Homo sapiens: one gene and its partners. The protein of the gene in region 5 interacts with the protein of the main gene of each other region in a biochemical or structural test. Each region holds a gene or a part of one and is shown on either strand. Other genes may lie near its edges. The genes, in order: NFE2, PAX2, JKAMP, BMF, MAPK8, SPIB and GEMIN5.

Region 1 (4,177 bases), on a different chromosome or scaffold from region 5:
TTTTATCAACTAGGACTGAACATTTTCATTATTTTAACAGCAAATACAATCCCATCAGAGCATGCTGGTTGAATGCCAGTCCTACTCCAGAGTGGCACCTATCTGCTTCCCCAGTCTTCAGATGTTTCTAATTTAACTTGAACATTGTAAGAAGAAAAAATGTAAGCTGCAGATGTCAGGATTGAAGCTAGACATATAGAGCTGAAAGCCATTACAAATTAGGAGGAAGAAAGGCTCTTTTCTCACAGTCTGTGGAGAAAGATGTTTGACCTGGGGCTTTGGTGGTGTAGCTTGCAGGCAAAAAGATGAATAAGTGGGCTGGGTGAGGTGGCTCATGCCTGTAATCCCAGCACTTTGGGAGGCCAAGAGGGGAGGATTGCTTGAGCCCAAGAATTCAATACCAGCCAAGGCAATATAGTGAGACACCACTTCTACCAAAAAAAAAAAAAAAAAAAAAAATTAGCTGGGCATGGTTGCACTGACCCATAGAACCAGCTACTTGGGAGGCTGAGGTGGGAGGATTGCTTAAGCCTGGGAGTTTGAGACTGTAGTGAAACATGTTCACACCACTGCACTCCAGCCTGGGAGACAGAGTGAGCCCCTCTCTGGAAAAAAAAAAAAAAAAAGATGAATAAGGGTACTTACTGGCCTAACAGAGTTGGGTGCCATGTGGCTGGGGTGCTTTGCCTGGGAGAAAGGAGGACAAAGGACACCTGGGGTCCCCTTTACGGGAGGTGAATAATCTCCCTGCTGGGTGGCCCCCCACCTAACTCCCTTCACACACTGACAAAAACCTGGCCAAGAAAGAATCCTTTGTCCTGGGACTTCTGAGGCTGAGGGGGGAGGGGAGAAGGCTACAGGTGAAAGGACACATCAAAGCAGTCAGTTGCCCCTCCTCCTCCAAATAGTTCCCCTGCCCTTGTTCCCAGAGCCCAGGTTTTCTGTAAATGAAGGCTATACCCTAAACGTCCAACTGCCTAGACAGCTGGGAAGCTAGACACCTGGTCCTTACCTTCAGCTGCCTTCCACCTTGATATGACTCAGTTTCCCTGTCCCTAGGAGAGCCGTGGGGACACAAGGCGACGACAACCTGTATAAAGTTTAAAGGTCACATTCGAGTGGACCATCAGGTTGGAATTCGTCAAATGCATGGGAGAAACGCAGACCTGGCTGGACTCCTGGGCTGAAAAGGAGGGCTGGGAGAGGCTTGGAGCCATGTGTGCCCCCGCTGGCCAGGAGCAAGGTGGGGGCGGGGTGTGGGCAGAAACCACATCGGGCTCAAGTTTCCTCTCTTGGCCGAAAGGGGCAGGAGGAGAGGAGAGCCACGGGGAAAGGGGAGGGTTGGAGGAAGGACTGAGAACTCAGGCCGAGGGCTTCAGACGCTGGTGCGCCTGCTTGGGGCTCCTGTGCTCAGCTCAGCCTGAGCTTCCACACTCAGCGCTCAGCAATGGCCCGGGGGCGGGGCGCGGTCCTCGCAGATTCTCAAAGGTAGCCGGGATCCTCGTCCAGCAGTGTCAGCTCAGGCTCAGCCTCCCCAGAGACAACACCGGGAGCCTCATCTCTCTCCTCACCCTGCTGTGACTCCACCACAGGTGCCTGAAAGGCAGGGTGTGTGTGGGGGGGGCGGATTCCAGTGAGATCCGAGGGGCAGGCTGGGGGGTGAAGGAGGTGAGGGGGGAAAATAACCAACTTTCGGTATCCTAGGAGACCTCAGACTTTCTAGATTGCCCCTGGTTTAGGAATCTGACATATTTGGGAACTCCTCTAGGAGAAGACCTAAGTGGTTTCTTGGGTGCTCTGGGATCCTTGGGGTGGAGGCTGTGAATGGGGATCAGAGAGGGGTCTCCAGAGGCAAGGCACCGCTGAGGGGCTGGGGAGTAGCCAGGAGGAATCCTTCAACTGGTGGGCTACCCTGAGGGAACCAATAGACTACCCTTTCCCCAACTCCATTCCATTACTCTGCCCTGTCTAGGCAGCTGAGAAGGTTTAGGGAAAGCTGAGGAATTGGAAACACTGGATATCTGAACCTCTGAGAAGTGTTGCAAGGTGCGGGGGTTGGATGGGAGATTGCCTCTGGGTTGTTGGCTCCTTTGCCCTTTCTCTTCTCTGTGCCCAGGGGCAGTAGAGATCAGCTGGACCTGGAGGGAGAAGGAAGACATCCCAACCCCAGCATAGTTGCTTCTAACTGGAACTCTTGGCTGCTTGGGAAATAGGGGCTTGGGAAGCAGTGGAAGAGAAGAGAGGAGGTATCAGAACTGCTGGGGCTGGGATCCCCTAGACATCGGTACCAAAGGACTGGAGTTTGGGGTCCAGGGATGAAGTGACACAATAGCAGAAACTCGTCCCCCTCTTCTTTGTTCTCACACATTTGTTTGAGTCATGCATGTCCCTAGGGCACTGAGCTCACTATGCTTAAATCTCTCTCCCTCCTTTTTTTCCCCTTCATTCTGTCTCATCTCTGTGTGTCTCTCTCTCTTCGGGAGTTCTCCCTAATCTTTCTAAATAGGTTGCTTACCGGTTAACCAATACCCCAAGTTTTACTAATCCCTCCTCATCCTTTCACTGCACCTATTGACACCTGGAGAGGTGAGGTGGTCAAATAAGCCTCAGAAAAGGGATCCTGAGGCAAGCCCCCTCTCATCGTTCCCCCTCGTTAAGGAAGTTAAGAGCCCTGGGGCAGCAGCTAAGGCCAAATGTATTCCTCTCTCCATCATCCCTCTCCGAATAGTCCTCACTCTGTATTCCTAATCATGAAGCTCCGTATCATTCTGTGAGTACTTAGGGATTATGATAAAAATCTTTCTGGGTAGGACCACCAGGCTAAGAGTAAGGAGGATGGACTTTAGTCCCTGGTGACAACCCCATTTCTACCTAATCCATAATGTTGGGGAGTAAGAGAAGGAACAGACAACCCAGTGGGAGTAAGATGGTGGTGTGACCCCAAAATGCAAAAGCTAAACTGTAAAGTGGGAGCTTCTTATTGTAAAAGAAAGGGAACACAGGGAAGCCCACTTCACTTTCCCAGTATCTCCCCAGTTTCTATACCCTCTATGGTGTTCTATTTGATCCAATTCTATCTATCTCCCTGATCTATCCCACTGCCTGCCAGCTCTGCTGTCCTCTGAAAGGTAGGCTCTGGAAACCCAGAGGGACCCTATGCCTGGTGTATAGAACACCATCCATCCTTGAGCGTCTAGGGAAAAGCATCCTGCTCCACCTGCCACCTGGTACAAACTTGCTACTGCACCCAAGAGCTGGTTGGAATGGATCCAGAGGTTCTCCTCAACTCTCTCTCCCCCAAACTCCTGCCTCCCCTTGCTCCCCTTCTTTTTTTTTTTTTTTGAGACAGAGTCTTACTCTGTTGCCCAGGCTGGAGTGTAGTGGCATGATCTCAGCTCACCGTAACCTCTACCGCCCAGGTTCAAGCAATTCTCATGCCTCAACCGCCTGAGTAGCTGGGATTACAGGTGTGCGCCACCAGACCTGGCTAATTTTTGTATTTTTAGTAGAGATGGGGTTTTGCCATGTTGGCCAGGCTGGTCTCAAATTCCTGACCTCAGGTGATCCACCCACCTCAGCCTCCCAAAGTGCTGGGATTACAGGTGTGAGCCACCACACCTGGCCACTGAGGCACTTTTAAAATGCTGATTCCTGGGTTTATGGATTCAATTCAGTAGATTTGAAGTGGCTTTTAGGAATCTGTGTCTTTACATGTAGCCCAGGTGAATGTGGCACACAATGAAGTTTGTGACTCCCTGAGCTAGATGCAACCTATGGCCTTTAATAGCAATTAGGTTCCTAGTCCTGTCTCCATTTAATGGAAGGGACTGAATGAGAAGCAATTTGCCCACGGTCATGTATCTTTTTTTTTTTTTTTTTTTTTTTGATGTGGAGTTTCACTCTTGTTGCCCAGGCTGGAGTGCAATGGCATGATCTTGGCTCACCACAACCTCCGCCTCCTGGGTTCAAGCGATTCTCCCACCTCATCCCCCCAAGTAGCTGGGATTACAGGCATGCGCCACCATGCCCGGCTAATTTTGTATTTATAGTAGAGACAAGGTTTCTCCATGTTGGTCAGGCTGGTCTTGAACTCCCGACCTCAGGTAATCCTCCCATCTTGGCCTCCCAAAGTGCTGGGATTACAGGCGTGAGCCACCGTGCGTAGCAAGGTCTTGTA
Region 2 (3,928 bases), about 52 Mb from region 5:
CCTGGTGCGTGCGAGCGGACCCCAGCGAGCAAGGGAGCTAGTGCCAGAGAGAGCTGCGGAGGCTCCGGCAGGAGTGGGGACGTCCCCGTGGTTGCGCCTCCTGCGCTCGCCCCGGATCCACCGAGCTAGCAGCGGGCGGCGCTCAGCCGCGTCCGCAGCCTCCTCTTCTCCCCAGCCGGGGAGAGCCAGCCTCGTCTCCCACATCCTCTGCCGCCAGCGACCTGCAGCTCCGCACTGTTTCCCTCCCCTGTACCCCCTTCCCAGTCACCCGAGGGTTCAGAAACCAAGTCCCCCGGCTCTCCCGCCATCCGCTGGGTCCCACCGAGGCAGGTGGGTACTCGCCGGAGGTCTTCAGCTCGATTCTGAACCAAGCGTTCTGGACTGCCCAGACCCGGTGGGCAAGGGGACTGGGGAGGCCCTGCGCACAGTCGCGTGGAACGGGAGGGGACAAGACAAACTGCTGGACACTTTTCCGTGGAATGAGAAGTGGGGGGTGCGTGGGTGGGAAGGTACCTCCGGAGGGAAAGGCCAAAGGGAAGGACCAGAAAGAGAGGAAGGAAGAGCCGGGAAGGAACGGAAGGGAACTCAGAGCCGAGGGTGGTGGGGTTGGGGCTAGGGATGCGCACTGGGCCCGGGGCCGCGCGGCCCAGGCGGGCACTGGCCAGTGGATGGCAGGGCTGGGCGAGTTAGAACTGAGAGCCCGGCTTCACAGCGCAGCGCGCTCCGAGGCCCTCTGTCGTTACCTGAATATTCATTAGACTGACCGCTCTTTATCCTTATCTAGCGTTTATCTTATCGGCGAGTTTCGTTTCTCAGTGTAGTTTTAATCCCGGGCTCCCATTCCCCCTCCCCCGGTCCGCTCCCCTCCCTCCCTCTTCCTTCGCCGGCTGCTCCCTCCCTCCCTCCCTCCCATTTCTCCCTCCCCTGCCCTCCCCTAGCCGGCACCGGAGTGACAGGCTCGGGGCCCTCCTCGCCGAAGCTCGGGGCTCCAGCGCTGGCGAATCACAGAGTGGTGGAATCTATTGCCTTTGTCTGACAAGTCATCCATCTCCCGGCGCGGGGAGGGGGAGGAGGTCTGGAGGGGGCTTTGCAGCTTTTAGAGAGACACACACCGGGAGCCGAGGCTCCAGTCTCCGGCCGAGTCTTCTCGCAGCCGCAACCCACCTGGGGCCAGCCCAGAGCTGCCAGCGCCGCTCGGCTCCCTCCCTCCCTCCCGGCCCTTCGGCCGCGGCGGCGTGCGCCTGCCTTTTCCGGGGGCGGGGGCCTGGCCCGCGCGCTCCCCTCCCGCAGGCGCCACCTCGGACATCCCCGGGATTGCTACTTCTCTGCCAACTTCGCCAACTCGCCAGCACTTGGAGAGGCCCGGCTCCCCTCCCGGCGCCCTCTGACCGCCCCCGCCCCGCGCGCTCTCCGACCACCGCCTCTCGGATGACCAGGTTCCAGGGGAGCTGAGCGAGTCGCCTCCCCCGCCCAGCTTCAGCCCTGGCTGCAGCTGCAGCGCGAGCCATGCGCCCCCAGTGCACCCCGGCCCGGCCCACCGCCCCGGGGCCATTCTGCTGACCGCCCAGCCCCGAGCCCCGACAGTGGCAAGTTGCGGCTACTGCAGTTGCAAGCTCCGGCCAACCCGGAGGAGCCCCAGCGGGGAGCGCAGTGCTGCGCCCCCCGCCCCCGCGCGCCCCGCAGCAGCCGGGCGTTCACTCATCCTCCCTCCCCCACCGTCCCTCCCTTTTCTCCTCAAGTCCTGAAGTTGAGTTTGAGAGGCGACACGGCGGCGGCGGCCGCGCTGCTCCCGCTCCTCTGCCTCCCCATGGATATGCACTGCAAAGCAGACCCCTTCTCCGCGATGCACCGTGAGTACCGGCGCCCGGCTCCTGTCCCGGCTCGGGGCTCTCCGTCCCAACCCTGTCCAGTCCCAGCGTGGCCCCGGCCCCTCGCGCTCAGGTCCCATCTTGGAGGCCTCCCTGGCTTCTGGTCCCTCTTTTCGTTCTTTCTCTCCCTCGCCCGGTGTTTCTAATGCCTCCAGTTTCTCTCCTGCCTTCTGTCACCCATTCTTACCTCTCTGTCTGCCTGCCTTCCTACCTTCCCTGATCCCTATCACCTGCCTTTGCTCTTTCTATCCGCTCCTTCTTAGGTCATGGGATCCACGGCCTCGGAGCCCTGGTTCCAGCCACCCTCTCCCTAGTCAGCCTCTTGCCCTGGGCTGGGGGGCAAATTAGCAGGCAGTTTTCAGGGTGTTGTTTTGTTGTTTTCTCTGTCTTTTCTCTCTTTCTCTCTTCCTCTGTTTGCCTCCCTCTCCTGTCTCCCCACATCTTTATCTTTCTCAAACTTAAGAGTCGTGGGGTCCAGGAGACTCCAAGAGTATTCAGCCTCAGTGTCAGGACAATTGGGCAGAAGAGTGTGGGGGTGGGGTGCCCCCTTCTGACCCTCATCTCTCAGCATCTCCAGGCCCTTCCAGCCCAGCATAGGCTTCTTGTGGGTTGGTTTGAAATATTTTCTTCCTCTTCCTTTCTTTCCCACCCCCCTTCCCTTGCCTTCCCTTCCCTTCACATTGGGAATCCCAGGTTGTCAAGACACGATGGTCATCTTTCCCTGCCTCTGCCTGGGGGATGCTCTAAAAACAAAGAGGGGCTCCGAGAAGAAATCGAAGTCAGGGAGAGAGCCAGCAGCGCAGCCTTCCAGGTGGGCCCCCGGCAGAGTGCAGCTCTGCTCTCAGCTCTGGAGGCTCCTTGCCTAGACTGCCGACTCCCCATTGAGGATCACGCAGCCAGCAACCTGGCCAGGGGGTCAGCAAAGAGCAAAAAATGAGGGGGAAAGAACAAAAGGAAAGCAAATGCCAAAGCTGAGGAGAAAGGAAAAGAGAAATCCAAACACGGGAAAGGAAATTAAAGAAAGAAAGTTGACATGATGTTACAGAAGAAAAGGGAGAAGGGAGAAAAAAATAGAGAAAAGAGGGAATTATTTTAATAAAATTTGAATTTATGCCATGTCTTTAGCTTGAAAAACTATTCTGAGATTTTTTTTGCAGGCTTTTTTTTTTAAAAGCTAAAATTCTAAATAGAAAACTCCTCCCTATCTGCAGATTAATAATTAAGGATAATTTGTAACTTTTCACAAGGAAACTTTAGACCCGGCTTGGACCTGTGTTTAGGACAAGAGAGCCGAGGAGGGAGAGCTGTGTTTTTCGCTAATCATATATTTAGCGTTGCGGGGGTTGGGGGGGGCGTTTAAAAATACTTCTGGGATAAAATATATTTTTCTAAGTAATTTCCAAGCGCAGGAAAGCCGCGCCGAGGGCATCAGGCCTCCGCGGGTCTCGGCGAGCGGGCCGGAAAGCCTCGGTCCTTTTCGGGAGGAGTGGAACCGGGTCCACACGCCGTTTTCGCCCAGCCAGCCTGCCTCGCGGCCCGCTGCCACAGCTCTCGTTCTCCTTTTTTGCGGATTCCGCCGGGGGTCCGCCGAGTCCTGGCTGCCCGCGGGCAGCCACTTTGAAACCCAAAGGTTTCTGCACGGCCAAGCAGAGGTCGGAGGGAGAGAGCCGCAGCGCGGGCCCGCGGGCCGGTGGACTGGTGGGTGAGACACCGCAGCCCGAGTCGGTGCTGGCGGCCGTGGCGCATTCCAGGCCCGACTCAGCGCCGACTCGCTGCAGTCCCCCAGCCCTGGACTCCCGCCGTGTCCCCTTCCCATCCCCACCCCTTAGACTGGGGCTGAGGGGCCGGGCCCTGAGCCCGGGGAGGCTGAATTATTCATCTTTAATCTGCCCGCAGCTGCCGCCTTTTCATACCGGTAACGCGAGTTCTCCCGGGGCCTAAATTATTGATGGTCGGGGTTTGGAGGGAGGGGAGGGTGAGAAGTGGGGCTAGAGATAGGGAGATTAACGGGGTGGGCAAGGGGGTAAAAGAAGGGGCTTCAGTCTCTCCCAGCAACGCGA
Region 3 (3,500 bases), on a different chromosome or scaffold from region 5:
AGAAATACAGTTGGGATAAAAACTTTCTGGAAAAAAGTGGTAAAAGCAGTTTGGTACATGGTTGCCTCTAAGGGAGAGACAGAGGTATGGATGGGGAGGAACAAAGATGTAGTTACAAATTGTTGACAGTGTTCTAGTTATTGGGTAGGAGATGAGCTTATAATATTATAATTACTATACTTTCTAACAAACACGTTACATACCATCTTTTATGTGCATATTAAGATTAAAATGATACACAGATAACTAAGAAATTTTTAGCAACAATTTGGCAAGATACTAAAGATGCAGGGTAGATATAATTTCTGCTTTTCTGTTACACATTTAGATAATACTGCTACAGTGTTATTTATCCCTTTTGAGAAAAAAAGGTTATACTCGAGTAGTTTTTGACTTTTCTTATAGATTTAGAAATCTGTATCTTGACACATGTACATGTTTTATTAAAGCCATTTAAATATTGCAATTTTTCTAGTAATCATGCCTCTTTTCCTTCTCTAGTTCCAGCGCACTTTTCCAACACATCACTGCATTATTTGAATGCAGCATGGCAGCTATTATCACCTTACTTGTGAGTGATCCAGTTGGTGTTCTTTATATTCGTTCATGTCGAGTATTGATGCTTTCTGACTGGTACACGATGCTTTACAACCCAAGTCCAGATTACGTTACCACAGTACACTGTACTCATGAAGCCGTCTACCCACTGTAAGTGTTTATTTCGACTTAAGATCATTGTTTTTTTTTAAATCTCTGAGGATTATTATAGATTTTATGGCGTTTGGAGACAAAAACAGGTGTGGGTTTGAGTTCTGGGTCTGCCAGCGGCTTTATTACCTTGAACATGTAAACAGCCTCTTGTAACTTCAGTTTTCTCTTTGGTAAAATGGGAATAATGATCCTTATAAGGTGTCGTGAGGATTAAATTAATCCACACATTCTAGATACCATATAACTTACATATAGGAGGCACTTTATAGTAAATGGCATTATTACAGTGTTTGGATTAGTGTTTTTTCTTTTTTTCTCCCCAAATAAGTGTAATTTCTGTTAGAATGTTTTGTTTTCAAAATATTAAATTCATAAAATTCTGTATGCAATTATGCCAGACTATTCCAGTTTCAGAATTTTTATGAATTTTTGTAAATTCTAGAACTAGAAAATGAATCAAATTCATTTTGATATTTTTTGGGGGAAAGGGAAAATAGAAGTCTGGTATTTATATTCTCATAATTGTAGCAGGCTTTCAGTACATAATATGCTCAGGGAAATTAGTCCTTTTTGAGCAAGTTCTTAATAATAAAACATCAAAAACATAGAAATGCAAATAGGTACAAAACAACCAGATATCTTAGAAAAAATGAAAATCTTCTTTTCTACCTGCCAGTTTTTTGTTTGTTTTTGAGACAGAGTCTCGTTCTGTCACCCAGGCTGGAGTGCAGTGGCACGAGATCTCAGCTCACTGCAACCTCTGCCTTCTGGGTTCAAGTGATTCTTGTGCCTCAGCCTCCCAAGTAGCTGGGATTACAGGCATGTGCCACTATGCCTGGCTAATTTTTGTATTTTTAGTAGAGAGACGGGGTTTTGCCATGTTGGCCAGGCTGGTCTTGAACTCCTGGCCTTAAGTGATCTACCCACCTTGGCCTCCCAAAGTGATGGGATTACAGGCGTGAGCCACTGTGCCCGGCCTCTCCCTGCCAGTTCTTAGGTATGGCAAATTATTTTATAGATATATATATATAGCTATAATTTATATATAAAATACTATATAAAACACTGATAATGTCCTTTTTGTTGATTCATTGATTCGTAGAGCTTAACTCTAAGCATTAATTACCCTCTTGTCATATAACTCTCCTAAGGCCTTGCATAACTTAACGTGGTCCTATTTGGAAAACTTAATAAATGAATTGAATATTATATTTAAATAAGATATAATGTAATCTTATTTAAAACAAAATCAGACTTATTTAGCGATAGTCTCATTTATGTTATTTATTGTAATATTTATAAAGCCTATTACAGTAGGAGGGTCAGAAAATATAAGATTAGAAGAGAAATGGCAAACAGGTACTACCAACCCTCATCTGCACCTGTAATAGTCACTTCTAATTTATTGTAGCACTTTTTCTGCTGATTTGAGTGTAGCCTAAGAATCTTGTGGCAGCACTCTCTGTCAATCAGAATCATCACACAGCTTCATTGATTAGGACATTTTTTGTCTATTCACTATCCCTGAATCAAGATTGTTTGTTTTTCTTCCTCAGCACCCTTACCAACAGTCATTGTAGAACAGCTTGCCTGCCTTGTTTTATTATTATACAAAACAGTGATTTTTAAAATTATGAGATATTATATAGTATCTTATAGCATTGGGTTTAGGCATATTATTTATTTACCTAAGCATTCTAAATATAAATGTATGGTCAGACTGGGCTAAGCACTTCCGAAGGTTGTAGGGCTACCACAAGTCATAGTAATTTTTTTTTTTTTTTTTTGCAAGTCAACAAAAAGCAATAGCACACAGTTACCAGAAACCTTTGGAACACTAGTGCATTGACAAATGAAGGCTGTTTTTCCCAATGTATATATAGCCTAGTTTCTTACAAATTGAAAAATACCACAGGACTTTACTGATAATTATAGTTTTAAGGGGAAACAGATGAGGCATGAAAAAACATGTAAGCTTCTATCATTATAACTTACTGCAAAAAAATAACTTTTACATTACTAAAACTTTAAGAATGAGTTATGGAAAATGAGCAGTTATTACTCTTATAGCAGGAATTAGCTTTAGTTTGTCAAATTTAAACTATCCCCACATGTAGGCAGCATGGATTGAAAGAGGGGAAGAGTGGAATGGGATGAGGTCTTCTGGTGGAAGGCAGGAGTGGGAAACGTAATCACTTCCAGAAACTAGTTTCCTAGTTCATTTGGAGAAACACAGGATGGTTTCCTCCTGATTAAAGTGAATCTTTTTGGAGCTCTTAAGGAATTACAAGTTGTGGAAATGGACAGATTTTTTTTCTTTTGCTGTTGATAAGAGGTAGCAAACAAGACTAGGAAACTAATTCATTAGAAGAGGTAACACATAATGGTTTCCTCTTGATTAAAATCATCTTTTTTAGAGCTCTTAAGGAACTACAAGTTGCAGGAATGGATAGATTTTGTTTTCTTTTGATGTTGTTTGGGGGTGGTATAACAAGACAAAAAAATTATCACCCAAGAGATCAAACATGTACTAATGCATTACTGTACAGGACTGAACCTAAAAGCATCATAGGAACACAGGATTATGGTATCATGATGCTGTGTGGGGAGGAAGCATGTGGTCCGTGATCTGAAATGACTGCTGACTTCCTAGGACACTCCCCTGTATAGGGAGAGGGTTTGAGTAGCAAGATAGTAAAAATGATTTGAAAATACTCAGGAAAATTAAGGTAGAACTATGTGGATAAAAGTCCCATTATTCAAAATAAAGTGCTAGAAATCTGGTGACA
Region 4 (3,500 bases), on a different chromosome or scaffold from region 5:
CACACACTCTGCACCTGACTGCTCTCTCTTCCAGGAGAAGGGCCTTGTAGTTCCGGAGAGTTCATTCCCTCCCCACCAAGGCCTGCCATGGGATGGAAATTGGCTTTTTTTTTTGGAAAGTGGGTGATGGGAGGAGGGGACTAAGGGAGACACAAAGAAAGAAGGTTAAAGAAAAATGACTGGTTTGCCTTTTGATCCATGTCTGGCAGCCAAGAGGTCATGTTCCATGACCAGAGCACACAATCAGTCCGTGTGTGAAGGGGAGGGTTCCATCCTTCCTCCTTGCCTGGTTTGCCTTGACCTGGTCCTGGACAGGACATGAACAGTCAGCTGAAAAGACCCCAAGTCGAGTGTCAGAACCTGGGGTTATTTTGCATAGCATAATACACACAACAGGCTTGTCCCCCGAACCCCCTCCCTCTCCCTTCTTTAACCAGGGCACACACCATTGTGCCCTTCTGAGCTCTGAAGAAGTTGCCCAGTAGTTTGATGGAGCTGTTCTCAGCTTGAAGGAAACTGAGTAAGGGTCTCAGTAGTTCCTCCCTCCAGGCTGTGGAGGTGCAAAACAAGGGTCTGGGGACATGGATGGTGCAGCACAGCTCTGTCCCCGAACCGTACCCCTCAACCCCCAGTGGCTGGAGCCAGTGTCTTCCAGTTGCGTTAGAGGAAGCCTTGCCATCTTCCACTGAGAGCTGGCTGGCTTCGGACTGCTCTTTTTTCCTTAGAGAAGCAATGGGCGTGGCCATGGTGGCTTCAATGTCCTGTTAACACTGCTGGCTGGGCTGAGGAAGCTCTTGGCAAGGAGTCTTTTTTTTCCTTTTCCGTTTTGCCACGTTGCTCGTTCCTCGGGCCTCTGGGTCAGAAGCAGTCTGAGGCAGTGGGCCCACTGGGTCCAAGGGGTTGCCCTCTGGGTTTCAGAATCCTTGGCTTACCCTGGCAGCCTAGAATCCTGAGCCCCATGGCCTGTGGCTGCTGTGGGCAGTCTCAAAGCAGAAAGTCAGGGATCTCCCAGGGATTTCGTGAGTCTGCCGGGAAGATGGTGCTCCCCAGGCCGGCCCTGTTGCAGAGCATATTGAGAGACGTGCTCTGCAAAGCCAGTGAGTCCCAGGTTTTCCTTGTGCTCCCCAGGGAAGGAGGAGCCTGCTCCTTGCAGCCCCCAGGCCCAGTGCTTCATGTATATTTTTCTTACGTAATCACCACAGCAACCTTGGACTTTTAGACTCCATTGCCACTGTGTTATAGGAAACTGAGGCTCAGAGAAGTGAGGTAACATGTCCAAGTCACACCGTAATTTGCTGAGCTAGGCGTCATACAGATTTGATGGATTCTGGAACCATGGTCCAATCGCCCCATACCTGCTGCCCAGCAATCACATTCCGGAAAACAAGGGTACAAGGAAGCACACATTTGCTGCCCCAACCCGCTCTGCCTCATGTGATACTCAGCTAGGTGCTCTTGCTCTTCTCCCCATTATATTGTAAAACAATTGAGAACCAAGTTTATAATATTTTAATCATCTTTGTATCCACATAACTCTTAGCTCAGTTGGGTGCTTAGTAGCTCAGTTGGGTGCTTGGTAGCTCAGTTAGGTGCTTGGTAGCTCAGTTGGGTGCTTGGTAGCTCAGGTGTTTGGTAGCTCAGTTAGGTGCTTGGTAGCTCAGTTGGGTGCTTGGTAGCTCAGTTGGGTGCTTGGTAGCTCAGTTGGGTGCTTGATAGCTCAGTTGGGTGCTTCATTAAAATGTCCTTATTTCAACAGAAAACATCTTCCTAGCTTCCTTCAAGCAGGAATTTTCCTGCTCTCAATGTTCCTGTTCTTAATTGCAAGGCTCTTTCTTTCAGCCTTGGCCTGAGTAGGTTTAGAGAATGACAGGGAAAAGGGAAGAGGGAGGAAAACTTCACATCGTGGACTGTGCACCTTCCCCTAGAGTATAGACAATTCTGCATTTTGAAGAGATTGAGTGTGGTTTCAGATCACAGTCTGAAGTTATAATTTCAGACCAGTTTTAGCTTTATTTCTGTTTGATCTTCAGTTAGCTCTGCCTCTGAAAGGGTTATTTTTTTCTGGTCCACAGCGTCCTTACTAAATAGTTAATGATCTGGAAACAATGTCTTTAAGCATACTAGGGGAGCAGATCAGTGGTGATTTGCTTTGAAAAAGGTAATGCTATTTTCATAATGTCAATAAACACACTGTAAAATTTTAGTGAAGGAACATAGCTTTGGAGTCAGAAGTCAGGGCCTCAAATTACACCCCTCCCAACTAACTTGGGATGACTTTTCTGAGCCATTGTTTCCGTCGCTCTAAAATGGGTTGATTAATACCTGCTCTTCCTATCGTGAGGATCACATGAGAAGAAAGGAAAGTGCTCTGTTCTGTATCTGAGATATTATAAGTTGCTCTCTGTTTGGTAAATTTGCATTTTGTGAGTTAGGTTCTTTTAGAGCTGCACACGGCTTCGCTTTGCTTCTTCCTCTGATACTTTGGGGTGAATTAGCTCTAGCTGGAGCATCTGGAACACTGGTGACACACAGAGCCCCCAGAGGGTATGAATTGGATCTGAAAAGGGGAGAGGCAGAGGGAGATTCTTATCCAGGGAGCGTAGGGAACACGCTTTGTGCTTAGGGCAGAGGCTGTGTGGGATGAAACAGAGTTTGATTTATGTAATCCAACCTTGTCAGACACCACAGCCAGCTCTTTAGAGAAAAAAAAAAAAAAAAAAAAAAAAGGAGGCCTTTTACTAGTTGGGCCTCTCCCCAGGTGTGAGGCTGATACTATCACATAAAGTACATCTTTAGACCTGGCCAGACATCAGTTGTTCCTGGCCTCAGACAAGTGGGTTATCTTTCAGGGCTGACTCCTCTGTAGTCGGTCCAGCATGCCCTTGTTGAGTGCCTACTGTATGCCTTCCATGTTCCCCATTACACAGGATGAGCAGCTGTGCATTCAGGCATAGGGTGTTGCACACAGTAGGGATTGAAACATTTGTCAGCTGACTGCCTTCATCCCCTGTCCGTGGCAAGAAAATGAGGCTGGGCCAAAGAAGCCGCATGGGGCTCTGATGCCTGCTTGTGCTCTCTTCATTGAAGAGAACACCGTGATCTACCATGTTAGGGCACCTTCCCTGGGGGCATTCACCTCTATTCATTCCCTCCATTCCTTGGCCCTGCCTTCTAAACCATGTGAGTCCGAGGGCTCTAGGGTGAGCTTCCCCTCCTCTGTATCCCAGCCCCGACCCTTGGGTCACCCTGACTGTGTATTCTGGGAACTCCCATTCTGTGAGGGGTTCCCTAGCTGAGTCTAGGAGGGCAGGCCTGGTTCTGGGGATCTGCCCTTGTTGATCTCAGATTGTGCGCTGGGTGCTGTGCCGGGTGCCTGAGGGTCAGAGGCCAAGTACACTCATTCCTGGTTCCCCTCTCTTCCCCTTCTCCTCCACACCCTCTTGTGGAAGATCCCACGTTCTCTGGTGTTTTGGTATCTTTGTGTTCTTCATCCTGTTCAG
Region 5 (3,500 bases):
TTTTTTTTTTGAGGGAGTCTACCAGGCTGGAGTGCGGTGGTGCGATCTTGGCTCACTGCAACTTCCGCCTCCCAGGTTCAAGTGATTCCCTTGCCTTAGCCTCTCAAGTAGCTGGGACTACAGGTGTGCACCATCACACCCAGCTAATTTTTTTGTATTTTAGTAGAGGCGGAGTTTCACTGTGTTGGCCAGGATGGTCTCGATCTCCTGACCTCATGATCCACCCACCTTGACCTCCCAAAGTGCTGGGATTACAGGCGTGAGCCACTGCACCCAGCCTCGTATGCATTCTTTATCCTACCTTTTCTTGATGGAAGTACAAGGTTAAGGATTTATTTAGGCTTTAGGCTATCTAGTGGAGCTAAATAATTATGGATTTGTACATTGAGTGCCCACGATGTACTAGGTGGATCTTTGAGGCAACACAACGAACATGCAGGGTCTCTGTTGGCATAGTCCACTGTCTATTTGGATCCATTAGCATTTTAGGAAATAGTTGCAAAAAAATATATGTTGTAATAGATATAGAAGACACATGTTGAGCGTCATAGACTTGGAAGGGATCCAGTTACTTGTCTTTGGAGAAAGTGAGAAATGTATATGACTGTTTCATGAATTCAGTTTACAGATTTTTGCTTGAAGTTTTTTTGTGTGTTTTTGAATTTCTTATTACAGCGCAGCTTATGATGCCATTCTTGAAAGAAATGTTGCAATCAAGAAGCTAAGCCGACCATTTCAGAATCAGACTCATGCCAAGCGGGCCTACAGAGAGCTAGTTCTTATGAAATGTGTTAATCACAAAAATGTAAGTGAACATTTTTGGTTTCCTAAGTATAGATGAAATCAAGATTTATTCATGAATATGTGAATATCAAAGACTAAATATTAGGGGCTTTAAATTGTTCTGTATTAAAACATTGTTTAAAAGGGATATATATATATATATATATATCTACAGGGTGATTTTCCTCAACTTTATTAAATTGTATCAGAAGAATGGCTTCTAAAATTTAGATTATATGATTTCCTGTCATTTAATTTACAAAAGGAGTTTTAAAAAGATAAGCGTTTGAGAAGAATTTTATTCAGCTTGATCTCATCTTCTGCTTTTTGTTCTCCGTCAGGCTGACATTTAGAAAACTGTAGCATTAGCACAGAGATGAAATTGTTCCCATTATGCTTTGACACTCTGACTTTAATCATATTGAATATAAAATTTATATCACTTCTCCCTACCCCACTCCCACCTCTTTAAGTGATGGCAGTATTCACTGATCACTTTATGATGAGGATAGTGGGTTTAGCAGAAAGTGTTTGAAACTATCTAGAGGGTATTAACATGTTTCTAATTCTATTTTCTAATGATTGCAAAGATAAGTCTTTATAAAGATATATAAGTTGCACTCATTTTGAGAATAAACAGTTATACTTTTTTAAACTTACATTAAGCTTATTCATACTTTTGTGATTGTTCTAATGGAATGATTTCTTCAGTTGAGGAAATAAACTAGGAGTGAATTGTGTAAGGGACACTTTTAGGCAGTCCTAAACCGAAGGCATCTGACTAAAGACATTTCGTAGTGTTTGTCCAAAAGAGTTTATATAATATAATGAGCACAGTACCTTCTGACTACAGATAATACAATTTACCACATTTTGAGATCTAAATATGTGCAGGCCTCTGTGTATTGGAGTTACTGGGTTCATTATCAAGGGAAAAAAAAATCATGGAAGTTCAGGATTAGGCCCTTTATTTGGGGAGCTTACAATGGTGTTTTGAATACAAAACAGACATACAGAGAGTTAAATATCAAACATCACAAAGCAGTGGCCGTTTGTCAAATGATGATGGTGGCCCATATATTGAAATCTAAAAAGAGGGACGATTTCTGTGAGCTTTAATTAACTGGGAAGGCTTTGGGGAGGAGTAGACCTAGGCTGACTCTTAAAGATGGGGTAAAAATTGGATTGTTGAAGGAAAGGAGCCTTCAGAGAGGAAGAATGACGTAAAAAAGGTCCAGAGACAAAGATTAAACTTAGATAATAATAGGGAGGAAGTTGTGGTAGCCATTCTTGTTCCAAGCGGGAACTTGATGTGTTGCTCATCACAGTTTTGCTGGTGGCATCCTGTCCATGGATAGAGCTGCTCGTGCCCCTTGTGGCCTGTGAACGCAGTTCCATGGCAGTGGTGGTGTTGCCTTAGTTTTTCCTTGGGGAGGAGTTCAGTTAATCCTACCTCTCAAGCCTGGGTGACTGCAAAGAAAGGTGGTTCCTTCAACTGCATGGAGTATGACTAAGCATGTCTCACATGATTAGGCCTCTAGCAGGGGTGGCAGAGGTTTATCCAGGCAGAACTCTCAGCACCTAGAAGAGTGTGGACAAGAGTAGGTACTCAGAATATATTTGTTCAGTGAGTGAGTATAAAGCTAAATATGGGAAAACTGGAAATGGTAACTGAATTATTCCACTCACCCATGGATGGATGTTTTTGTAGTGTTTTGCCTTTTAAACAATTTCATCCTCTGTACAGATTGTCTCTTCACTGGTCTAAGCATCTCTGGTTTTTCTCATTCTTTTCATAGATGGTCTTGAGTTTCTTTTTTAATCTTGGCCGTTTATCTCTGAACACACTTTGAAAGTGACCTAGCACACACTACTGCATAAGCCACCTAGCACACAGTACTGCACGTCTGATCAAATCCTCTGAGAGGAGCTGAGGCATGTCATCTCTTAACTGTAGACATTAAAACCCTGTTTAGAAATTTCGTCCCCATCTGACTCCCGTTGTCTTTCTTTGTTACAGGCCTGCCTTACAGTTCCCATCTCACCCAGTCTTTATATTTTTTCTTTTGATTATGGAGAATTAAGTATAGTACTTCATGTTTCTCCCTATTAAATTTCAAAGGTGAAATGTGGTTGCTCTTCCTGGTCTACTAGTGATTGCTGTGATTGCTTTTTTCTTCCTTGTTCTGACTTTTCACTTGTGGGCTTCACTTCCCAGTTTTGCTCAGGATATCTTTGTAATAGCTGGATTAATTCATTAGCAACTTTTGAGCATATTGCAGAAATTACGTGTCTAACTATCACAGTTATCCAGCTGTTTCCAATTCATCATCTTATTCACATGGATGTTATTATTAGAAACATTTTGTAAAATGCCATTTTGAAATCTTCATATACTGTGTCTGGTTGCATTTTTCTGATTTATTGCTATTGTTCTTTGTTGTTTTTATTCATGGAAGGAAATAGTATTTCTCAATGAACTTTTACCTGCTCTTGGTAATTGTTACTTCTTTTGAAGTAGTTATATACCACTACTAATCATTGACTTTTGCTTGGCTGTCCAGTCTATAACTGATATAATTTCCTTTATTTCCCTTTTTGAAAAATGGGACAACTATCTGTTTGAATCTCTTTTATAACAGCTTTATTGAAATATAATTTCTGTGTCATGCAATTCACCCATTTGAAGTATACCATTCAGTGGTTTTTAGTATATT
Region 6 (2,877 bases), on a different chromosome or scaffold from region 5:
GCTGCCCCTTTTTATGTGTCTGGAGTTCCCCAATCACATCTAGGGCTCCTCCAAGATCCTTTTGTCATGTCTGAAATCACTCTTGAGAGGTCTGGGGTGGAGGATGGGGAGTCAGTGAAATGTGTCATGTCTGGGCCCTGTCAGGGACACCCTTGTTATATCTGGGATCCTCCAATCACATCTGAGACCTCCTAGGCTCTCCATCTGATATGCCCTTTCAGGGACCCCACAAAGACTGAGTTCTCATGGGGATCCTACCCTTCCTAGTGCCACTCCCTATGGCCATGCTGAAGACCACTCTGGCCACGCGACTGATTTTGGGTGATCATGGCAGCTCCCCACCCATGTCATTTCTAACCAGAAGTCTCAAGGTCGTCACCCCCCTGCCCCCCAACCGAGGCCCCGGTCGCTGGTGGTGGTCTCTTTAGTGCACTGTAGCACTTGGTGGTGGAGGTGTGAGGGATCCACATTAACAGCAGGCCATCAGCTGGGCAATGGCTCACACCTGTAATCCCAGCACTTTGGGAGGCGAGGCAGGGGGAATGGCTTGAACCCAGGCATTCAAGACCAGCCTGGGCAACATAATGAGACCTCGTCTCTACAAAACATAACAAAAACAATTAGCCGAGCGTGGGGGTGAACACCTGTGGTCCCAGCTGCTCAGGAGGCTGAGGTGGGAGGATCTCTTGAGCCCAGGAAGTAGGAGGCTGTAGTGAGCTGTAATCGTGCCACTGCACTCCAGCCTGGGCGACAGAGTGAGACACCGTCTTAAAAACAAAAACAAGGCCGGGCACGGTGGCTCATGCCTGTTGTCCCAGCACTTTGGGAGGCCGAGGCAGGCGGATCACGAGGTCGAGAGATCGAGACCATCCTGGCCAACATGGTGAAACCCTGTCTCTACTAAAAATACAGAAATTAGCTGGGCGTGGTGGCACGTGCCTGTAGTCCCAGCTACTCGGGAGGCTGAGGCAAGAGAATCGCTTGAACGTGGGAGGCAGAGGTTGCAGTGAGCCTAGATTGTGCCACTGCACTCCAGCCTGGGGGACAGAGCGAGACTCCGTCTGAAAATAAAAACAACAAAAACAGCAGACCATTCAAAATAGGGAGACTTTGCATAATCCAGATTTCTGCCTTCACTTAAAACTTTGGACGGTCTGGAGAGAGTCGGCCAGTTTTCGGTGGGGGGTGGGGAGCTGGAACAGGACAGTAGCCTTTCCTAATGAGGCATTTGTTCTCCAATCTGCCCCAGTCGCTGCCATCCCTGGCTATCTCACCCTAGCAGCTTCTCAAGCCTGTTGGCTTTAGACCACTGTATAAACCCAGCTGGAACTGAAGCCTGGGTGGACTATGGAGCCCTGGTTGGGACCCCCAGGGAGTCAAAGGCTGCGGGCCAAGAGGCCAGAGGTCCTTGAGCCTGGGTGGGCAGGTGGATCTAGGGTGCATGACTTGCTGCTTCCCAACCTTAGTTTGTCCCTTCTGTGAAAAAGGGAGAGAAGGAGGAGGAAGATCTCAAAAAGACTTTCCAGCCCAGTGCGGTGGCTCACGCCTGTAATCCCAGCACTTTGGGAGGCCGATGCAGGTGGATCACCTGAGGTAGGAGTTCAAGACCAGCCTGACCAACATAGTGAAGCCCCTTCTCTACTAAAAATACAAAATTAGCTGGGCGTGGTGGCATGTGCCTGTACTCCCAGCTACTTGGGAGGCTGAGGCAGGAGAATCGCTTGAACCTGGGAGGCGGAGGTTGTAGTGAGCTGAGATCACACCACTGCACACCAGCCTGGGCGACAAGAGCGAAACTCCGTCTCAAAAAAAAAAAACTGTTGCAGCCCCGTTGAGCCTTTGACACCGCCTGAAATCCACCCCACTCCCAGGAGGAGGAGGAGGAAGGAATGCCAATGACCTAGAGACACGAGAAGTCCATGTGGAGGCACACAGCAGCTGATGGCAGAGCCCAGGCTGGGACCTGCCCTTAAGAGAATGAGTGGGAAGGGGGAGGGAGGAAGGGCAGGTAAAACGTCCTCCCCAGGGCCCCCTGCAACGGGGAAGGTACTTTTTACAAAAGCTATCATTGTCACCCTAAATGTGGAATAAAATAAGATGCATCGACGTAGACAAACCTCCTGGGACCTTTTGTCAGGGACTGCAATCCTGCCCCTCCACTGAGGCCGCTGGCTCTCAGAGACACCGTGACATCACGGGTGATGATGAGAGGAGTTCAAAGAGAGAATTATATGCTGGCGCGGTGGCTCTGTAATCCCAACACTTTGGGGGGCCAAGGCAGGAGGATCGCTTGAGTACAGGAGTTTGAAACCAGCCTGGGCAAGATAGTGAGATCCCCTTCCCACCCGTCTACAAAAAAAATAAAAAATTAGCGGGGTGTGGTGGCGTATGCCTGTAATTCCAGCTACTCCGAACTACTGAGGTGGGAGGGTCACTTGAGCACAGGAAGTTGAGGCTGCAGTGAGCCGTGATCGTGCCCCTGCACTCCAGACACGGCGAGACCCTGTCTCAAAAACAAACAAACAAATCACAAAGACACCATACAGCAAAACCTATCTGAACCTTAATGCCGAGAAATAAGAGGCTTGACGCGCAGGCACAGAGGGTTCCGTTTATGTCTTCCTCTATTCCTGCCAACTGAAGTTCTCCACCTCCTCCCCGCTTCCCCTTCCGTCTGGGTGTCTGTCCCCTTCCCTCTGAATTGAGCCCTCGGGCTGGCAGCGAGGGACGCGAGGCTTCAGGTGGCCGCGGCACTGCAGGCCTGGGCCCCTCCCCAACTTAGCGGGGCTCGCGGGAGCGCAGTGGCAGTCTGCCTGGCAACCCGTGACATCACATGGAACTGACGCCGGATTGGCTGGACGCTCCCCGGAGGCGGAG
Region 7 (3,150 bases), on a different chromosome or scaffold from region 5:
CAAAGTGATGGGGTTATAGGTGTGAGCAACTGCACCCAGCCTTTATTTTGTTTTTAATTACAGCTTTTAGTTCCAGAAACTCACTTTTTGTTTTTGTTGTTTGTTTGTTTGTTTTGAGAGGGAGTCTCACTCTCATGCTCAGACTGGAGTGCAGTGGCGCAATCTCAGCTCACCACAACCTCCACCTTCCGGGTTCAAGCAATTCTTCTGTCTCAGCCTCCCGAGTAGCTGGGACTACAGGCACGCGCCATCATGCCTGGCTAATTTTTGTGTTTTTAGTAGAGGCGGGGTTTCACCATGTTGGCCAGGCTGGTCTTGAACTCCTGACCTTGTGATCTGCCCACCTTGGCCTCCCAAAGTGCTGGGATTACAGGCATGAGCCACCGCGCCTGGCCCACTTTTTGTTTTAATTAAATGCAAATGTAAAGGTGTTTTCTCAGTGTGAACAGACTTTAACACCGGGACGTGTGTGTGCTGCTGTGCAACTAGACATGAGAGTTTCCGATGTGGGAAGCAAAAATGGGTGGCGGAGACAAGAGGAACTTTCAAAGTGTGAATTGTGTGTACTTGTTTCCAAATGCGGTTCACAGGAACAGTTTGGTGGCATCCTCTGCGCCTACCGTGGGAGGATGTTTAACTCAGACTCTGGCTTCTCTCTCCAGCTCCTGCTTCACATTTGCCATGACTTGACCCTGGCAGTGCTGAGCCAACAGATGGCCTCCTGGGACGAGGCTGTGCAGGCGCTCCTTCGGGCGGTGGTCCGGAGCTATGACTCAGGGAGCTTCACCATCATGCAGGAAGTGTACTCAGCCTTTCTCCCTGACGGTAAGTGACTTCCTGCTGCCTGAGGCACACCCTTTAATGGACAACATCACCACCATTAGTGGTGTGGCACTGGGAGTACCTAGATTCTTAAAAGATGGAGATTGGCCAGCTGTGTCATTTTAGTAGAAAGTTTGGATTCTCTTACCGAAGCTTTTAAGAACAACTATACTGTTTCCTTTACCTGGCCCTACCCTCTTACAGCCTCCTGTCCACTTTCCACAAAGTTTAAGGGAGAGAGAAATAGGAATGTAGTTACATGTTAGTAAGAACAGAAAAGAACAGCAAAAAAGATAGACATTCCTTGGGCTGCATAGTCAGTCACTGAACTAAATCATTGTGATTTTTCAGAGAGACAGTGTGATCTGTTGTCGTGGCCCCAGAGCCTTCAGTAGTACAAATGGAATACTCTATCATGCTTTGAATGACTCCTAGGATGTAGTAATGAGAACACTGTCGCAAGCCAGGAAATGTTTAGCCTCCAGTTGGCTCTTGGTGGAAAGGCATGTGGCCCGGTGGATCACACTGTTGTCCTTTTTCCTGGGGTCTGCTTCTTGGTTGATAAGAAATAGAACATAAGGGCAGGAAGCCACATTTCTGGCAACTAGAGAAATGCATGACCCAGTATCTTTTTCCTCTTTTCCTAGGCTGTGACCACCTAAGAGACAAGTTGGGGGACCATCAATCCCCTGCCACACCAGCTTTCAAAAGTTTGGAGGCCTTTTTTCTTTATGGGCGTCTGTATGAATTCTGGTGGTCTCTCTCCAGACCTTGCCCAAATTCCAGTGTCTGGGTAAGGGCTGGTCACAGAACACTCTCTGTTGAGCCAAGCCAGCAGTTAGACACTGCCAGCACTGAAGAAACGGACCCTGAAACTTCTCAGCCAGAGCCAAACAGGCCTTCAGAACTAGACTTGAGACTCACAGAAGAAGGTGAGCGAATGCTGAGTACTTTTAAGGAGCTCTTTTCAGAAAAGCATGCCAGTCTCCAAAACTCACAGAGAACTGTTGCTGAAGTCCAAGAGACCTTGGCAGAAATGATCCGACAACACCAAAAGAGTCAACTCTGTAAATCCACAGCAAATGGTCCTGATAAGAATGAACCGGAAGTAGAAGCAGAGCAGCCCCTCTGCAGTTCTCAGAGCCAGTGGTAAGTACTGAGGCAAGTACAAGACGGAATGAAAAATGACCCTGCTGGCTAGGAACAGTGGTTCATGCCTATAATCCCAGCACTTTGGGAGGCTGAAGCAGGAGGATCACTTGGCCCAGGAGTTCACCACCAGCCCGGGCAAAAAAGCGAGACCCTGTCTCTACAAAAAAAAAAAAAAAAAAAAAGCCCGGGCACAGTGGATCACGCTTGTAATCCCAGCACTTTGGGAGGCCGAGGTGGGCAGATCACTTGAAGTAAGGAGTTTGAGACCAGCCTGGCCAACATGGTGAAACCCCGTCTCTACTAAAAATTAGCTGGGTATGGTGGCACATGCCTGTAATTCCAGCTACTTGGGGGGCTGAGGCCAGAGAATCGTTTGAACCTGGGCAGCAGAGGTTGCAGTGAGTCAAAATCGCACCAGTGCACTCCAGCCTGGGCAACAGAGGGAGACTTCATCTCAAAAAATACAAATAAAGTAACCAGGTGTGGTGGCATGTACCCTGTAGCTACTTAGGAGGCTGAGGCAGGAGGATCACTTGAGGCCAGGAGCTCAAGTTCAGCCTGGGCTACATATTGAGACCCTGTCTCTAGAAAAATTAATTTTTTTAAATTAGCCAGTAGTGGTGGCATGCACTTGTAGTCCCAGCTACTCAGGAGGCTGAGGTGGGAGGATCACTTAAGCCCAGGAGTTCGAGGCTGTAGTGAGATACGATCATGCCACTCATACCAGCCTGGTTGACAGACCCTGTCTCTACAAAAAAAAAAAAAAAAAATTAAATTTTAAGAAGCCAGGTGACAAAGGAATTTTATTTATAAAATGAGATAAAAGTAACCCAGGCAGGGGCATATGCTCTCAGGGCCTCCTGAGGGCTGTGTCATAGGCAAAAGTTTAAATTTTTAAAAAATATTAAAAATAAAAGGTAAAAGCTACCCAGGCATAACAAAAGATAATCCAATTCAAGGATGGGCAAAGGACTTGAATAGACATTTCTCTAAAAAGCCAGTAAGCACAGGAAATGATGCTCAACATCTCATCATTGGGGAAATGCAAATCAAAACTACAGTGAAGCAGCACTTCATAGCCATTAGGCTACTATCAGAGAAACAGAACAAGTGTTGAGGAGGATGCAGAGACATTGGAACCCTTGTGCCTATTGGTGGGAATGTAAAATGATGCAG

Evidence for each region.
Region 1: of the proteins of MAPK8 (region 5) and NFE2, one has a biochemical effect on the other in vitro, tested with the Homo sapiens proteins (one study listed by BioGRID).
Region 2: of the proteins of MAPK8 (region 5) and PAX2, one has a biochemical effect on the other in vitro, tested with the Homo sapiens proteins (one study listed by BioGRID).
Region 3: the proteins of MAPK8 (region 5) and JKAMP form a complex in vitro, tested with the Homo sapiens proteins (one study listed by BioGRID).
Region 4: of the proteins of MAPK8 (region 5) and BMF, one has a biochemical effect on the other in vitro, tested with the Homo sapiens proteins (one study listed by BioGRID).
Region 6: of the proteins of MAPK8 (region 5) and SPIB, one has a biochemical effect on the other in vitro, tested with the Homo sapiens proteins (one study listed by BioGRID).
Region 7: the proteins of MAPK8 (region 5) and GEMIN5 form a complex in vitro, tested with the Homo sapiens proteins (one study listed by BioGRID).

Annotation. Positions count from the first base shown.
Region 1 is NC_000012.12:54,298,216-54,302,392, reverse strand, and holds the start of NFE2 (transcription factor NF-E2 45 kDa subunit), read left to right. Parts: upstream 1-1,377; 5' UTR 1,378-1,592; intron 1,593-2,116; exon of another isoform or gene 2,117-2,246; intron 2,247-4,177. UniProt on the Homo sapiens protein: Component of the NF-E2 complex essential for regulating erythroid and megakaryocytic maturation and differentiation. Binds to the hypersensitive site 2 (HS2) of the beta-globin control region (LCR).
Region 2 is NC_000010.11:100,744,454-100,748,381, forward strand, and holds the start of PAX2 (paired box protein Pax-2), read left to right. Parts: upstream 1-1,128; 5' UTR 1,129-1,739; coding exon of another isoform or gene 1,740-1,807; coding exon 1,808-1,850; intron 1,851-2,561; coding exon of another isoform or gene 2,562-2,734; exon of another isoform or gene 2,735-2,984; intron 2,985-3,928. UniProt on the Homo sapiens protein: Transcription factor that may have a role in kidney cell differentiation. Has a critical role in the development of the urogenital tract, the eyes, and the CNS.
Region 3 is NC_000014.9:59,494,517-59,498,016, forward strand, and holds part of JKAMP (JNK1/MAPK8-associated membrane protein), read left to right. Parts: intron 1-501; coding exon 502-708; intron 709-3,500. UniProt on the Homo sapiens protein: Regulates the duration of MAPK8 activity in response to various stress stimuli.
Region 4 is NC_000015.10:40,095,380-40,098,879, reverse strand, and holds part of BMF (bcl-2-modifying factor), read left to right. Parts: intron 1-3,500. UniProt on the Homo sapiens protein: May play a role in apoptosis. Isoform 1 seems to be the main initiator.
Region 5 is NC_000010.11:48,404,177-48,407,676, forward strand, and holds part of MAPK8 (mitogen-activated protein kinase 8), read left to right. Parts: intron 1-675; coding exon 676-805; intron 806-3,500. UniProt on the Homo sapiens protein: Serine/threonine-protein kinase involved in various processes such as cell proliferation, differentiation, migration, transformation and programmed cell death.
Region 6 is NC_000019.10:50,428,938-50,431,814, forward strand, and holds the end of SPIB (transcription factor Spi-B), read left to right. Parts: 3' UTR 1-2,377; downstream 2,378-2,877. UniProt on the Homo sapiens protein: Sequence specific transcriptional activator which binds to the PU-box, a purine-rich DNA sequence (5'-GAGGAA-3') that can act as a lymphoid-specific enhancer.
Region 7 is NC_000005.10:154,890,062-154,893,211, reverse strand, and holds part of GEMIN5 (gem-associated protein 5), read left to right. Parts: intron 1-662; coding exon 663-825; intron 826-1,469; coding exon 1,470-1,971; intron 1,972-3,150. UniProt on the Homo sapiens protein: The SMN complex catalyzes the assembly of small nuclear ribonucleoproteins (snRNPs), the building blocks of the spliceosome, and thereby plays an important role in the splicing of cellular pre-mRNAs.